Linked DNA regions of Homo sapiens: region 2 is linked to region 1. The links come from fine-mapping of genetic effects on gene expression. Tissue or cell type: tibial nerve. Region 1 holds a variant in brackets; the other region holds the start of a gene. All regions are shown on one strand. Distances are from middle to middle.

Region 1 (8,104 bases):
TCCTTCAGCGATAAAGGCTCCCAAGGAGTGGCTGAAGGCTGGGGAGCATCGCAGCTCTGCCCCATCTGTTTACCGTAACAGGTTTTGTTTATAGAAATCATTCTCTTTTGCTAAAAAAAAAAAAAATTTCCTGATTGGTTGTTACTGAGGTTTGAAACCCTGTTTTTGTGTACGCTTTTTTTTTTGAGACGGAGTCTTGCTCTGTCACCCAGGCTGGAGTGCAGTGGCACGATCTCCGCTCACTGCAAGCTCTGCCTCCCGGGTTCATGCCATTCTCCTGCCTCAGCCTCCCAAGTAGCTGGGACTACAGGCGCCCACCACCATGCCTGGCTAATTTTTTTGTATTTTTTTAGTAGAGACAGGGTTTCACCGTGTTAACCAGGATGGTCTCGATCTCCTGACCTTGTGATCCGCCCACCTCGACCTCCCAAAGTGTTGGGATTACAGGCGTGAGCCACCGTGCCCGGCCTGTGTACACTTCTTTTTAATGAATGATCTTTACTGATATCTTTTGTTGGTTTTAATTACTTTTTTAGTGATTCATCTTGGATCTTCCAGGTATTCATTCCTTTATTATTATTATTATTTTTTTTTTGAGAGAGAGTCTCGCTCTGTCGCCCAGGCTAGAGTGAAGTGGCATGATCTCAGCTCACTGCAACCCTGCCTCCTGGGTTCAAGTGATTCTCCTGCCTCTGCCTCCCGAGTAGCTGGGATTACAGGTGCATGTCACCACGCCTGGCTAATTTTTGTAGTTTTAGTAGAGATGGGGTTTCACCATGTTGGCCAGGCTGGTCTTGAACTCCTGACCTCAGGTGATCTGCCTGCCCTGGCTTCCAAAAGTGCTGGGATTACAGGAGTGAGCCACCGCGCCTGGCCTCATTCATTTATTTATTGAAAAAATATTTATTCAGTGCCCACCCACTGTGTACCAGACACATTTCTAGGTGCTTGGAATATATCTATGAGCAAAATCCATGTATATCATATGGTAAGCTCAAAATGAGTATATTATACGGTAACTACTTTGGAGAAAAAGAAAATGGATCAAGGGTTCTAGAGGTGGGATATGGGATCCAGGCAGAATTTTATTTTATTTTACTTTATTTTATTTATTGATTGATTGAGACGGAGTCTTGCTCTGTCACCAGGCTGGAGTGCAGTGGTGCGATCTTGGCTCACTGCAACCTCCACCTCCCGGGTTCAAGGGATTCTCCTGCCTCAGCCTCCGGAGTAGCTGGGACTACAGGTGCGCACCACCACGCCCAGCTAATTTTTGTATTTTTAGTAGAGACGGGGTTTCACCATGTTGGCTAGGATGGTCTCGATCTCCTGACCTCGTGATCTGCTTGCCTCAGCCTCCCAAAGTGCTGGGATTACAGGCTTGAGCCACCGTGCCCAGCCCAGGCACAATTTTAAATACCGTGGTCACCATAGGTCTCATTGAGAGGGGGACATTTAAACGAAGACTTGGAGGTAAGGACGCCGGCTATGTAGATATCTGCTGGAAAAGCATGCTTGGCAGAGGGGAAAGCCTGTGCAAAGGCCTTAGAAACACGCTGGAGGTGTTCGAGGATCATGGAGGGGTGTGGCTGGAGTGCAGTGAGTGAGGGAGTCAAGGTTGGTTAGGGAGGGATAGAGTAGGGGACAGATGTTTGTATGGGGCCTTAGTGTAAAGACTGACACTGAGTGAAGAGAGGAGCCATTGCAGAGTTCTGGAATATTGTAGGGACAAGATGGGCTTACTTTTTTTTTTCTTTTGAGATGGAGTCTCGCTCTGTTGCCAGGCTGGAGTGCAGTGGCACGATCTCAGCTCACTGCAACCTCTGCCTTCTGGGTTCAAGCGATTCTCGTGCCTCAGCCTCCCAAGTAGCTGGGATTACAGGCAGGTGCCACCACACCCACTTAATATTTGTATTTTTAGTAGAGATGGGGTTTCACCATCTGGTTGGCCACCATCATGTTGGCCAGGATGGTCTTGATCTCCTGACCTCGTGATCCGCTTGCTTCAGCCTCCCAAAGGGCTCGGATTACAGGCGTGAGCCACTGCTGGGCTTACATTTTTAAAAGATCATTCTGGTTGCTCCTTTGAGAATAGATTTTAGAGGGGCCGGGGTAGAAGCAGGGAGACTGATTAGAGGCGATTGTAACGCTCCTCACCTAGGATCTTACTGTGCATTGAGCAATTGGTAAGGCTTATGGAATGAATGTTTTTACCTACATCGGGCATTTTAGCGTGCATTAAGAAACTACACATTTAAAAAATACATATTTTTCTTGAGAAAGTGATGGGACAGAAAAGTGAGAGCAGGGGAATTGCCTTTGGAACAGGCCATTTTGGTCAAGCCTTGTCCTGGATAAAGAAGATGGGGAATGAAGGCTGACCTGCCGTGGAGGGGAGGAATGGGCAGGCATGCCCTGCCTCATCTCACGGAGTGAGGGCAGAATCTGGGGAGCGCGTTCTTGGATGTCCCACCAACTTTGGAGAGGACCGGAGGCTGGGGATAGACAAGGACTACTATGATGAAGGAAGCTCGTAAGTTCGTGTTTGCTTCTAAATGGTTGCTGTGGCTTTCTGGCTTTAAACTGGTTTATATTTTCTGCAACCTCACTTCTTCCTAACTATTTAGTAGACCAGAACTTCTCGGTAATTTATTGCTCAATAGTGGGAGAAAGGAAGAACTTCGTTTTCAGGTTAAGACTTCATATGTCAAATCCAGTTTTATTGGTGTGATAAATGCTGGTTTCTGTTAAATTTACCAGGTTGGTCAGTACTGGTTCCTGATACAAGAACTGTATTTACCCTTTTAAGAAGATGATTTAAACTTCTGGAGAAAGGAAGAGGGCAAAGATCTTTAAAGAGTATGCTATTTTTATGACGCCTCCCTAATTATTCAGAAATATGAATAATTCAGGAATTTAACTGTAGAATAAGTATAAATTACCCGGTTACTGCCTTGAAAGAGTTTACAATCACCTTGAAGAGAATCCTGCCCTCACCCCCACCAGTTTCACAAAGCCTATTTTAAATTATACCCTTGGAAAAATTAAACCAAAACACTGCGCAAATATGTTTGGTGTGGAGTTCATTTCTTTGATTTAGTCCTTTCACTTTGGGCCCACACACTTTTGCCATCCTTTAGGGAGCATGCCCAGTGCTAGATTCGAAGCGAATATATTAATGTATGTGTTCACCCATCAATGCCTTGTGCTGAGGGAAAAACAGAAGAGAGTGTCATGGAAGGCTTAAGGATTCTTTTTTTTTTTTGCTGATACAAAGTACTTTTTGTTATTCAATGCTTGTGCCATCATCAGACAACTTCATCCAGAATGCACAGCAACTCTGTAATATAGCTCTGCCTGGTGCAAAATACCTCATTTTGTATAGAAATGCAGGATTGCTTCATGTAGATACAATAGAAAGAATCTTTGCTTTATTCATGTATGAATAAAACGTCTTTGTTCATGGAAGAGAAAAGTGCCTCTTATTGTTTGGAAGCTGTGTGAATTTTAAATTAAGCTGATGG[C/T]CCACTATATTACATATTTCGGGGGAAAAATTAGCTTTGCTTATATAAGTTTGGAATCTAATGTCTAACCTAGTGGCCTAAATAATTTTTGCTTTGCAGTTTGTTTATTATGTAAAGACATTGTGTTTGCCACAGACATTGCCTGTCAATGAATTGCTTTAGCAAAATTCTATAGTCCTAATTTTAAAAAGTTGTTATTTATTCCCTTGTCCCACATAAGATTTGAAGCAGCTTGCAAAAAATTAAAAATACAATGTAAATAACAGTCATAAATCATGATCAGAGAAAATATAAATATTTTATGGAAAAGTCAAAGCTTGTAGAGGCATGTGTGAGTGTATTTATGTGTCAATATACATGTAAAAGGGTCCATGAAGCAGCTATGTGGATCCTCAGATTTGATGTTGAGCTTCCTGGCAGCCAAAGTGGAAAAAGGAAGGCAATCAGTTAATCCTTTCTCTGGGTTTGCAAAGGACTGCTTAGAGCATATCCACCGCCAAGCAGGGGTATGGCATTCGGGCTTTCCCAAAAGAAAGCTGGCCACTCAGATGTTCTCACTCATAGGTGGGAATTGAACAATGAGAACACTTGGACACAGGGTGGGGAACATCACACACCAGGGTCTGTTGTGGGGTGGGGAGAGGGGGGCGGGATAGCATTAGGAGATATACCTAATGTAAATGACAAGTTAATGGTTGCAGCACACCAACATGGCACATGTATACATATGTAACAAAGCTGCACGTTGTGCACATGTACCCTAGAACTTAAAGTATAATAATAATAAAAAAAAGAAAGTTGGCCAATCGGAAGAACGGATTAAATAAAGGAATGCTGTAGGTCCTGGGACCCCCATGATGGTGCCTTAGGCTTTTCCCTTTGCAGAAAGTACCACCTCTGGCAAGTGACCTGCAGGACTACAGGCAGAAGTAGGGCTGGCAGAGTGCCTGGTGTGCAGTCACAGAACCCTCCAGCTCCAGATGTAAACTTTTGGCTTTCTTCAAAGTGTTCGCTGGTTCTTAACAAAATGAGAAAAAATAAGAACAAATAAGGAAAAAAAGTAAATTTCCTTCAAATCTGAATTTACGTGACGTCAGATATTATGTTCTTCCTATAATTTTAGTATTAAAAGTTCCTTTTTAAAATGAAAACAGCAGCAATAGTTCAAAAGGTTGTGTCCTTTCCTGGGGAAATGAAAAAAGTTGAAAACACTTTGTATACGGTAATAATAATAATCACTATTACTACTACTACGGGTATTTACTGCTTATGAAATCTAAAAGTCTAGAAACTCCTATTTCTCTTGGGCTCTACAGCATCTCAGTCAGCTGCTTTGTCTCCAGGATCACATTTCCAATTTTCTCTCTTTTCTCTCTCCCAGTGTACCGCGCACCTGCTGGTTCCCTCACCCAGTACATCTTGGCTCCCAGGAAGCCACACCCTTGACATTTACCATGCTTCCTGGGCATTTCCTGCTACCATCCCCACCCTGGACAGGGCTAGGATGGTATCAGGACTTAGTGCTGCACAAGCTTTCAGGATACCGGGTAAGAGGGGAGTTTGACACTTGGAACAATACTGGACCTAAAAGGAGCCAGGCCTTGGATGGACAGTCACTCTCCATGAGTTTTTGCACCATGTCAGCACTATAAACTCACTGCAGTGGGAGTTTCGCATTGACAAGGGTCTTCAGACCTAGCTCACCTCAGAAGGTAAGGGGGGCCTTGACAGGTCCTCTCAAGGGGGATAAATGCCACCTGCTATTTAAGGAGACTTGACCCCATCCCTGCTTCTATCCATTAATGGGTGACTTTTTAATTCTTCTGGAACTCTTATTGCCAAGGTCTTGGTGGGACTGAGGGTGAGATCGCTTTTCTGTAACACAGATGCATTGCCATTTTGCTCCTTGATAGTGTAAGATGTTTAAGTCAATTAAGACAAAAATGTGCTTAATACTCTTTTCATTTGCCTTAACAACTCCACGTTTATTTAATATCAGTTTAATTCTTGGCTGCTGCAAGGTCTGGGTAGTTTTCATTTCGAAACTACTCCTAGGGTGAGAAGTCTCTTAAGTGCCTGTGGTATTCCCAAAGAATTTGCTTTTGTGCGGCAGTCACAGCCTGGAAGCGCGCTGCTTTCTTTGCTCCTGGTGTCAGAAAAGCTACTCCTGGTTCTCAGATTGGGCTTTCCTGCACATTAGAATTGGAAAGGTCCTCTTTGTGTCTGCCCCTGTAAGGGAGCCAAACAAAAGGCGCCAGAGTGGTGGTAGGGCAGCATCATCGCTCCCTAACCTCCACCCTCCTCCTTCTCTCTTCCTTCCTCCCCGTCCCTGCCTCCCTGGCCTCCCTACTCCTCCATCCCCTCCAAGACTCTCAATGTAGTCAGCGCTCTGTTTTCCCCACCTTTGCCTGGCTGCCACCTCCCTCCCTCCCTCTCCCTATCAGCTTCCTCCGGATGAGGTGCTATTCTGCATGGACCCCTTAGAGTACTCATTAACTAGATGAATAAGCTGCCAGCAATATTGTTCCTGCTTCCCACATTTTAAAAAGGTTATCTCTTTCTTTTTCCTTCTAAACTTTAGAGCCATTTGAAAATAATCTTTTGGAAATATATTTACATAGGTCTCATGACAAATCCACATACTCCTTTTCAGACAGGTTTCAACGACTGCATAATGAGATGGTCTGGGTCAGCTTTGCACAAAAGTTGTACTTTTCCTGCTGTGAATCTGTATTTTTCCGCTGTGTGTATTTGCAATGACTTTCCCGCCCTACCTTCCACTAGTGATGCATTAATCACAGCATGGAGCTGAGAGGCGTGGGATTGGAAGGGTCTTTGAGAAGTTTTTTAATCGAGCTAGAACGAGGTCAAGGTTTTGAGCATTTAACTTGTGGGATGTTAATTACTTGGCTATGAAAAGGAAATTTGTTTTCTGAAAGTTCAACTGTAGCTACAGAATAAAGGCCATGGAAAGATAAGGCATGGTGTCAAGAGGTTTCATGATCTTATTCCACCTCCTTTTCAGGCCCCAACTCCACTCAAACCCTCCACTGTTGAGCCACACTGGATGTGTCACCCTCTGTCCCTAGACGTGCTGGACATCTGCATCCTGTGGTGCCTCGGCTCAGGCTTCTCTTTCATCTGGGAAAACCCTTGACCCTCTCCTAGACTTCCCAAATGCTGCTTCAAGGCATCATCCCTGCCCTCCTTCCTTTAGAAAGTCTTTTCTACCACTGAGAACACTTCCCTCATGCTCCACCGCAGACTGTACTTCATGCTGCTTTGCTCTTTGTGGTTGATGCATCTGTCTCTCCCACTAAATCATGACCCTCCATTCATTTCTACTTCCCACTCTACCCAGGGCATGGTAGGTGCTCAATAAATCTTTGCTGAATGGAATTTTTTCATCTAACCCAAGAGCAACCTGAGCAGAAAATCATAAATGAATAAGGATCGTAAATGGATGATCATCATAAATGACTAATCATCATAAATGAATGCTTATGGGATATACACAAATTGCAGAACACTGATAGCTATGGCATAGCTCTTATCCTAGAGTGAGTTTCAATTCACTTTAGGTTAGGACATAGAAAAGACAAGGAGAAACAACTAGTCCATGAGGATTTTTTCCATGCTTTGTTCTTTCCATCTGTGCTGTTCAGTAGCTAGTTTCACTGAGCTTCCCTGTAGTGGATGGGTAGAGATTGTGTATTATAAGTACTTGCTCATCAGTGGCTCAAGGGCAAAAATCTCAGTGCCTAGAGTTTGGCATAATATTATGTGAAAAATAATTTTTTGCAATATAATGAGATGTGACACTCCCCACTTTCCAGAACAAGGACTTGTCTCCTTTGGATTTCCAGACCTAAAGAAGAACATCTCCCTTGAAAAACTTTTCCCACTGGCAATTCAGCCCTCTGTTTTCCAAACCCACTTAGAAGCTAAGTTGCACTGGAAATACACAATGAAATGTTTATGGGAAAAAGGGGCATCATATCCACAATTTGTTCTCAAAATGATTTAGTGGAGGGAGAGAGAGAGAGAGGGTGGAAAGGGTGGGTTGGAGGGAGCAAAAGAGAGACAGAGAAAATTGATAAAATAAATGAGATAAAATTGAGGGAATCTGGCGAAGTCTATTGGAGCATTCTTTGTAGCATTGGGGAATTCTTTGTCATATGCTTGCAACTTCTCTGTAAACCAGACATTATTTCAAAATAAGTTTTTTTGAAAAGCAAAAGCAAATTCTTTGAATTCTTACCCAGTTTAAAAGGATGATATGATTGCAAAAAAGTTGTGTTTCTCTATCTATAGGCATAAATGGTAGTGCTTGGCAGTTTAGGATCCATTCACACAGAAACTGCATTTGAGGCAGGTGTTTGTGAGCACCTTTTGACCCCTTGACATTTAAGCAAAGGAGAAGTGGGTTCCTCTTATTCGCAGCTGTCATAGGTCAGACTTCTGCTTGTTGGGCGTGTCAGGCTGGGAAATTCCCCTCACCGCCAAGATGTCCATGTCCTAATCCCTAGGACCTGTGAGTGATAACTTATATGAGAAGGCAATGCGAGGATGGAAGCAAG
Region 2 (8,104 bases), 64 kb before region 1:
TGCACTCCAGCCTGGGCGAAAGAGCGAGACTCCATCTCAAAAAAAAAAAAAAAAAAAAAAAAAGAAAAATATTGGAACACAGAGCATTTGAACATGCTCATACCTGATTTATGAGATATATGATGGGATATTTTGAACATTAATAAGCATGCTTCCCTCCCCTTCTAACCCCTACCCAGAATTCTTCTGCCCCCCAACAATGCCCCCCAGATAGATATGAGTCACTTGCTACAGAACCAGACACAAGGAATGCAAATACTCATTAGACTCAAAAGCTGGCCTGGAGGTGAGTCAAAGGCCACAAGAAAAAGAGCATAGGCCAGGAGCAGTGGTTCACGCCTGTAATCCCAGCACTTTGGGAAGCTGAGGTGGGCTGATTGCCTCAGCTCCGGAAAACCCCGTCTCTACTAAAATACAAAAAAAAAATTAGCTGGGCATGGTGGTGCATGCCTGTAGTCTCAGCTACTTGGGAGGCTGAGGCAGGAGAATCACCTGAACCCAGGAGGTGGAGGTTGCAGTGAGCCAAGTTTGTGCCACCTCATTCCAGCCTGGGCGACAGAGCGAGACTCCATCTCCAAAAAAAAGAAAAGAAAAAAAGAAAAAGAGCTTAAGAGAACACTGAAACCTCTGCCAGAACATGGGCCATCTGGCAGAGTGCCAGAGACAACCACAGTGTCCCTCTTGTCATTGACTTGTGAAGACCACCAAATGCCCAAAAATCCTTCAGTTCAGAGGGATGTGTGTCAGTGCCTCAGGACACTTCCCAGTCCCCATCAATTTCATTCCATATGTAGACAAATCTGTCAAACAGTCCAGGACACTTGTATACACTTGTACCCCCCTTCCCTAAACAGAGGAGCTGTGGGCCCTTAGTGATTGAAGGGTGATGGTGACGTGAAGGGGAAAGCCTTGAGCTGGCCAAGGGGGCTCTAGCTAGCATGAGTTGGAAATCTTCCTCTGAGCTAGAAGCTGTGTAGAATACACACTCTTGTTACAGATGAACTAAAAAACTGTACATTAGAAACACAAAATGAACAGTATTTCAAACCTCTATGATATGTGTTTACAATGAAACATGACAGGCTATGTTTAAAAAAAACCTTTCAAGACATGTTATTTGACGATAGTATCACAAGTCTAGAATTTAACATAGAATAAATTTTAAAAAATCAAACCACCTAGAAAAGGTTTTTTTTTTTTTTTTTTTTTTTTTAAACAGAGTCTCACTCTGTCGCCCAGGCTAGAGGGCAGTGGCACCATCTTGGCTCACTGCAACCACCACCTCCTGAGTTCAAGTGATTCTCCTGCCTCTGCCTCCAGAGTAGCTGGGACTACAGGCATGCACCACCATGACCAGCTAATTTTTTTAATTTTTTTTATTTTTGAGACTGAGTCTCACTCTGTCGCCCAGGCTGGAGTGCAGTGGTGCGATCTTGGCGCACTGCAAGCTCCGCCTCCCAGGTTCATGCCATTCTCCTGCCTCAGCCTCCCGAGTAGCTGGGATTACAGGTGCCCGCCACCACGCCTGGCTAATTTTTTGTACTTTTTAGTAGAGATGGGGTTTCACCGTGTTAGCCAGGATGGTCTCGCTCTCCTGACCTCGTGATCTGCCTGCCTCGGCTTCCCAACGTGCTGGGATTATAGGCGTGAGCCACCATGCCCAGCCTAGAAAAGCTTTTTAAAAAATTATCCTGAATAACATTTGGATCAAAGAGGAACTCAAAACTGTAATGACAAGTTTTATTTAGAAAATAGGAGATCCATATCATTCATGAAAACAAGGTATGAAACCAAAGCCATACTCAGGAGGAAAATTTATAGTTTTATAAAAATAAATAAAAGACATGAGATTAAGGATACCCAAATACACTTTAATGGGCATTTGTTGTTGCTTATATATATTATTTTTATATATATTCTCTAATATATATTATATATTCTCTAACATGGTATATATTAAAGAATGTATATATTATATATATATAATATATGATATAATATATATATATATAAAATTTGGCTGCCTAACCTCTGAAGCTTCCTCCTATAGTAGGGAAATCTGCCATGGAGTGAATCCACCAATCAGATGCTGCCCTTGCTACTATGCAGCTGGAGTGACTGCCTGAAAGGGCAGCCTTCATTCTGGTAGCCATGGCCAGGGCTCAGTGGCAGAGCCAGCATATCCCAATCAAGCTGTTCCTGGACACCCTGTGGATCTCAGTGCTCAGATTCCTAATTCCTGCTCATCCCCTCCACCTTGTTCCCTACACCCCTCCTGTGAATCTCCAGGCTGCCTGACATCCTTCTCCAATACATATTTTCCAGCTTATGTTAGCTAGAGTCAGTTTCTATTGTTAAAACCCTCAAACTCTCACTAGTCTTCTGAACAAAAGTGAAGGAAGGAATGTGTAAGAATAATGAAAGAAAAATCAATGAGAGAGAAAAATCTGTAGCAATGATGAGTACCTTCAAAAATATTTTGAAAGACCAATAAAATCAGCAAACCTCCAATAAATCTATTCACTGAAAAAATTAAGACAAATCACAAAAACTTTTACAAAGGAGAAAATGTATATGAAAGATTCTGAAGTTTAAAAAGTATGATCTTCAACTCTATACTTGATTAATGAAGGAGATAAATTACCAAAATCAACTGAAGTGAGAAACTTGAATGTACTAACGACTGTGGAGGAAATGCCAATAAACTGTTTGAAAAAAAAGCACCCCCCTCCTCCCAAAGGGCACAGAGCCGGATTGGTCTAGGGGGAGGTACCATAGAACCGGTGCTATTTAAACCTCTCTGGAGCATGGAGAAAGAGGAAGCTGAGCAGCCCTGAATAGCCTAGGACAAGAGAGACCTGCCAATCCTGGACTCCAGCTGCAGCTGGCTCTCTGCCTTATGTAGTGGTTGGCCTGCGGTGAAGCCCACTGTTGAGAGGCATTTGAACTGTTGTATGGACAGGTCATCTTGCTACGCCATTCTGACCCAGCTGTCACCACCCTCACACTTTTTAGTTATCTATCAGTGGCTGGTGTCAGGCAGGTAAGCCCACAACACTCACCCAAGTCATGCTCATTAACCCTCTGACTGGCTGCCCTTATCCCACGATCTCCACTAAGTTCAAGCATTTTTTCCCCAGTATCAGAGGAGGAACACTGTTTATTCCAGTCTACATGCTTCAAGTAGAAGTGAGGAAACCAAGGCCCAGAGAGGTGTGTACTTACTTGCCCAGTCCTCACTAGGATGAAGTCAGGGTTAGGACTAGCCCCGACTGGGCGCTGGGAGCTAACAGCTAGGGGAGGAACTGCATGACTTTTGTCCTGGAGAAATGTTATGGCAGGTGGACACCAGGGCACAGGCATATACCCGAAGTGTCCAGGGCAGACAGGGACTGCTCGTCACCCCAGATGGGACCTGCTAAGGGCCCAAAAAGAGACTGAAGGTGGGAAATGTTTTTGTTTTTCAGTGTGAAGCGTTGCCAAACATATATTCTAGGTTTGGGAATCCTCGGGACCTTTGGAAGCCAGATTCAGCGAAGATGCTGTACCTTTTGGGGATAGCTCTAACACGAGGTTAACGCAATGCTCCATGTCCCTGGCTGGGCTTAGCTGTGAGTGCGTCGACCTCTGGACTCTGTGCAAATGGACACTCTGTAACTGACACAGCTGGTAGGGGTTACCGAGAGAGCTGGGTTCCTGGTCTGGTGGACTCCGCCGGATATGCAACGAGCTCTTTATGGCACCTTGGAGATGGTTGCTTTTAGTGCCGTTGACAGCGGGCTCAGAGCACCAAGTGAGCTAGCACCGTATTTATTAGTAAATTACTCCATAACTCTAGGGCTCCCAGAAGACCAAAATCATTTGAGCAGATTGCACCCAGAGCACCGCGTGGAGAGAGAAGAAAGCCCGCCACCCACAGACCGCTTCCTCCTACCACAGGTCCCCCATCGAGTTGCATTTGTTGTCCCTCCCTAGGCGCATTTCTGAGCCTTCCTTTCTTAAACATACACCGAGCGAAAATGCGCCGGAGGGAGGCGATGTTGCCTGTGAGCCAAAGCCGGTTCGGCACCAAGACAGAAGCAGAGAGAACTGATCTCTCTCCCGGTACCCATGACAATCTCAGAGCTAGATCTATATCGTCCCGCGCCCAGCAAGAAGCACTGTGTGACTGTACTCCCCCGACCCCCAGGACATCCCCACGCCCAGCTTCCCAGGCCGGTCTTCTGCGCGGCTCAAGTAGCCCAGGTCTCCACGCAACAATGAAGCGTGGGCGGCCCCAGCAGCTTCATTTGCATATCGCCGCGGCTTGGCCAATGGGCTGCGCAGGGGCTTTGGAACGCAGTGTTGCCATCGGCGTGCGCGCGTGTGTGCGAGTGTGACAGCGGCTGTGGCTGTGGCCGTGGCCGTGGGAGGCGGGCCCGGCGGAGCCCAGCCGCGGGGGGACCGGCCCGGGCTCCCGCTCCCCGAGCGCGTCGCGGCCGCGTGGCCCAGCCGAGCCTTGAGACCACCCCGCCCCTGCCGGTCGCAGTCGCGATGTCGGTGGCCGGGCTGAAGAAGCAGTTCCACAAAGCCAGCCAGGTAGGGAGGCGCAGAGGAGGGAAGGAGGGAGGGGGACGCGGAGGCTGCGGCCCCCCGAGGCTCCCGGGCCTTTGGGACTCCTGTTCCCTGAAGGGCCTCTCTCGGGGCTCAATTTCTTCCCGCCTAGGAGGGCGCGAGGGTGGGGTGAGGGGCCGCCTGCTCTCTCCTCGGCGTCTTGGCGCCTTCTCCTTCCCATTCCCTGGCCCCCGGCTCTGCCCTGGGCCGTTGTAAATCGGAGAGATTCTGCGGAGCGGAGGGCAGAGGTGGCGGCCGCGGGGACTCGGGAGGCGGAGACGGAGTGGGCGTGGGGGGGCCCCTACCCGCGCGAGGGGAGGACGACCACAGGGAGTACGATGCCGGCAGGGCCTCCCCCGAGTCTCCAGCCGTTTGGTTGGGAGAGCCTCGTGGGGGGCCCATCCTCCACCGGCCACCGGCGCCTCCAGAGATGCTGTGTATTTGGCGCTTGGCTGTGTCCCGCTGAGCTCCCCGCGCGCGCATCGAAATGGCCCCGTCTGGACTGTGCCCGGCTCCCCGGCTGGGGCTCTCTACCGCGGTCCTTCCCCTCCCCACCGTCTTCCCGGTGTCGGCCCGGGGCTGGGCATCACGCTTCTGCTCTTACAGAGCTGACAGCCTGCAGGGGAGACACGGAGACAGACACGTAAACAAACAGTGCTAGACACACCTCCACGCACAGAGGATGACAAATAACACAGTGGGGGCGTCAGGGAGAGCTTCCCGGAGGAGGAGACATGTCATTTGAGAATTAAGTATGAGGAAGAATTATGGCTGAGGGTGTGGGATGATAGGAGGAAAGCCGTTCTGAGCAGAGGAAACAGGAAAACAGGAGGGGAGACATGAAATTGATGTGTGTGTGTGTGTGTGTGTGTGTGTGTGTGTGTGTGTTGATGACAAGCAAATTTGTTTTTCAACATCAACATTGCAGGCTCTTCCAGCTATGGCAGAGCTCACGTTGTAAAACCTGTTCCCCACCAGCACCGCTGGGTCTGTTGCTTCTCACCACCTCTCCCCGCAACCCCAGCCCCCATTTTGCTAGAGCCAGGGTAGACAGATTTCATTCAACGTCCACATTTGTGGTGAGGTCTCATCCTGCTTCTCCCACAAATTGGCCCATAGAAAGCAACTGCAATTAGAAGATTCTCTTCTTCTAGCCCCAGTTCCAGGCTGAAAGGCACTGCTGTCCCCTCACTCACACTCTTTCCATATGGAAACTGGGTGATGCTGTTTCTAGCTGGGGGCACTGGGTGGACAGTGGTGCTATTCAAGGTGTTAAGGAGCCCTGGAGGAGAGGCTATTCAGGTGAGGGTGGAGATGATGGATTCACCACTGAACCCAGGGACTTTGAGGGGTCTTTGGGACATTCACATGTCACTGGCCTGGGTTGGGGTGCATATCCTGACCTGCAGCTCAGGGGGTGAGGCTGGTACTGGAGCTACAGATTTTTGGTGATTTCCAGCCTAAGCGGAGATTTAAAAATGTATGTGTAGACAAAAGTGAGAAAAGGCACAGCGAGTTAAAGGCAGACTCTAGACAGCACCCCCATTTAGGGACAATGTTTAGCCCAGTAATTGTTGAGCAGTGACCACTCAATAAATATTTATTGAATAGATGAAATTTTGGGGTGGCACAACACAGGAAAGAAAGAACTCGTAGATGACAGGAGAGAGAAGACCATCATGGAAGGGGGACATTTAAAGGCAGGAGCAATCAACAAGTGCTTCAGTGAGCTAGGTATTGTGGAGTGTCCTCAGCTGGTACAGCCAGGAGGCCGAGTGCTGCTGTGAGCAGAGCAGAGCAGAGCAGTGCCAGAGTAATCGCTGGCTGTACTTGTTACATTGGCTTCCTTAGCACTGGCAGGAAATGAACCTCCTCTTTTGAAAACTTTTCCTTTATTGGGTATGGACTTCACAGGGGCAAATCTCAAAGATAAGCAAATCTCAGAGATAACGTAAGCCCTTGGGTGATTTAAGTTGGTTTCTGACAGTAACCAGAATGAATGGTTGAAATCCTTGGAAGTTATTGGCACTGGAGAAATATTTTGCTAGTCATGGGTAGTTTGGTTTAACTACCTGTAATCAGTACATTAAAAATGAAATGAACAGAACGTCTTATTTAGTCTTTTTTTTTTTTTTTTTCGCATGAGCGGAAATAATTTATGACTTTACCTGAAAGGAGAGGCATCACAGATTCTCTCTGGGCTTCATAGCCATGTTTTGTGGTTAAAAGTACTCAGTAGATATGTTTTAATATGTTCTAGAAGTCTTTCTAAAAAATCTTGCAATGCAACAATTTGGTGGAGAAATCAGACCGGTTTAATATAATATGAGGGAGCTCAATAATAAAAAATGCCAGATGTTTTTCTCAGACAACATTTTAACAGCAGGTTTTAATTCATACAGAACTTACCTGGGGCAGGGGAAGGGAGCCCCAGATGATGTCAATGGCTAAAATAATTTCCAGGGATCTAGGTCTGGCTCAGCCACTGACCAGCTCTGTAACCTTGGGAACATAACTTAACCCATCTGGACCTTGGTTTCTATCTGTATGATGACTCAGGGAATTTAGAAGCTATGTTTCTGTTATAAAAATGATTGTGGCAATGGTTTCACAACTCTGTGAATATGCTGAAAACCACTGAATTGTACACTTTAAGAGAATTGTATGGTATGTGAAATATATCTCAATAAAGTGATACGAATATGTCTCTGTGTCTCTGGGTGTGTGTGTATGTATACATCTCAGTGCTGAAATTCTTAAGTAAGTTAAGCATTTCAGAGTAAGACAAAGATGATAAAGTGGACCTTTTACAGAGAAGGGATCCAGGACCATGGCAAACTGAGATAGTTTTCTGAAAGATAAGCGAGGTAAAATTAGCTATAACCCGGTTAACTGTTCCTTTTTTCCTGATACCTTCCCTATCTCTGGGAAAAAACCCCTACTTTACAGAGAATGAAGACTCGTAAACCCTGGGGATTATGCATCATTTTGGCAGCACATGGAGACCAACAGGAAAGAGGAAGAAATATGCTAAAATGAGAAGAATATAAGTTAACAAAAAAATTTAATTAATTCTAAGTTTCAGCGTTTGAGACTAGAACCCAAATTTTTCTTTTTTTTTTTTTTTCTAATATGCATTATCCTTTATTAAAATGGGATATTTTTCTTTTTTTTTTTTTTTAAGGTTATAGATTTTCTTTTTTTTTTTTAATTTTTTTTTTTCTATTATACTCTAAGTTTTAGGGTACATGTGCACATTGTGCAGGTTAGTTACATATGTATACATGTGCCATGCTGGTGCGCTGCACCCACTAAAGTGTCATCTAGCATTAGGTATATCTCCCAATGCTATCCCTCCCCCCTCCCCCGACCCCACCACAGTCTCCAGAGTGTGTTATTCCCCTTCCTGTGTCCATGTGATCTCATTGTTCAATTCCCACCTATGAGTGAGAATATGCGGTGTTTGGTTTTTTGTTCTTGCGATAGTTTACTGAGAATGATGATTTCCAAT

Direction of the effects. Alleles are on the strand shown, and positions count from the first base shown. SD is a standard deviation of normalised expression in the study named.
With allele T in place of C in region 1, the expression in tibial nerve of the gene that starts at base 4,341 in region 2 is lower (moderate effect, 0.63 SD a copy in GTEx).

The links. PIP is the estimated chance that this variant, and not a neighbour inherited with it, causes the effect.
Region 2: it holds the start of SH3GL3, and the variant in region 1 is fine-mapped to the expression of SH3GL3 in tibial nerve (GTEx, PIP 0.96).

What each region holds. Positions count from the first base shown.
Region 1 is chr15:83,506,839-83,514,942 of GRCh38, forward strand. The region is part of intron 1 of SH3GL3 (SH3 domain containing GRB2 like 3, endophilin A3); the gene reads left to right. Among named protein-coding and RNA genes, the nearest start is that of SH3GL3, 64 kb to the left of the region's middle. The variant C/T (reference allele first, on the strand shown) is at 3,525.
Region 2 is chr15:83,443,001-83,451,104 of GRCh38, forward strand. It overlaps SH3GL3 (SH3 domain containing GRB2 like 3, endophilin A3), which reads left to right and starts at 4,341. Exons shown (of 9, transcript NM_003027.5): 1 at 4,341-4,578. The coding sequence starts at 4,534. RefSeq lists an enhancer at 4,037-4,196.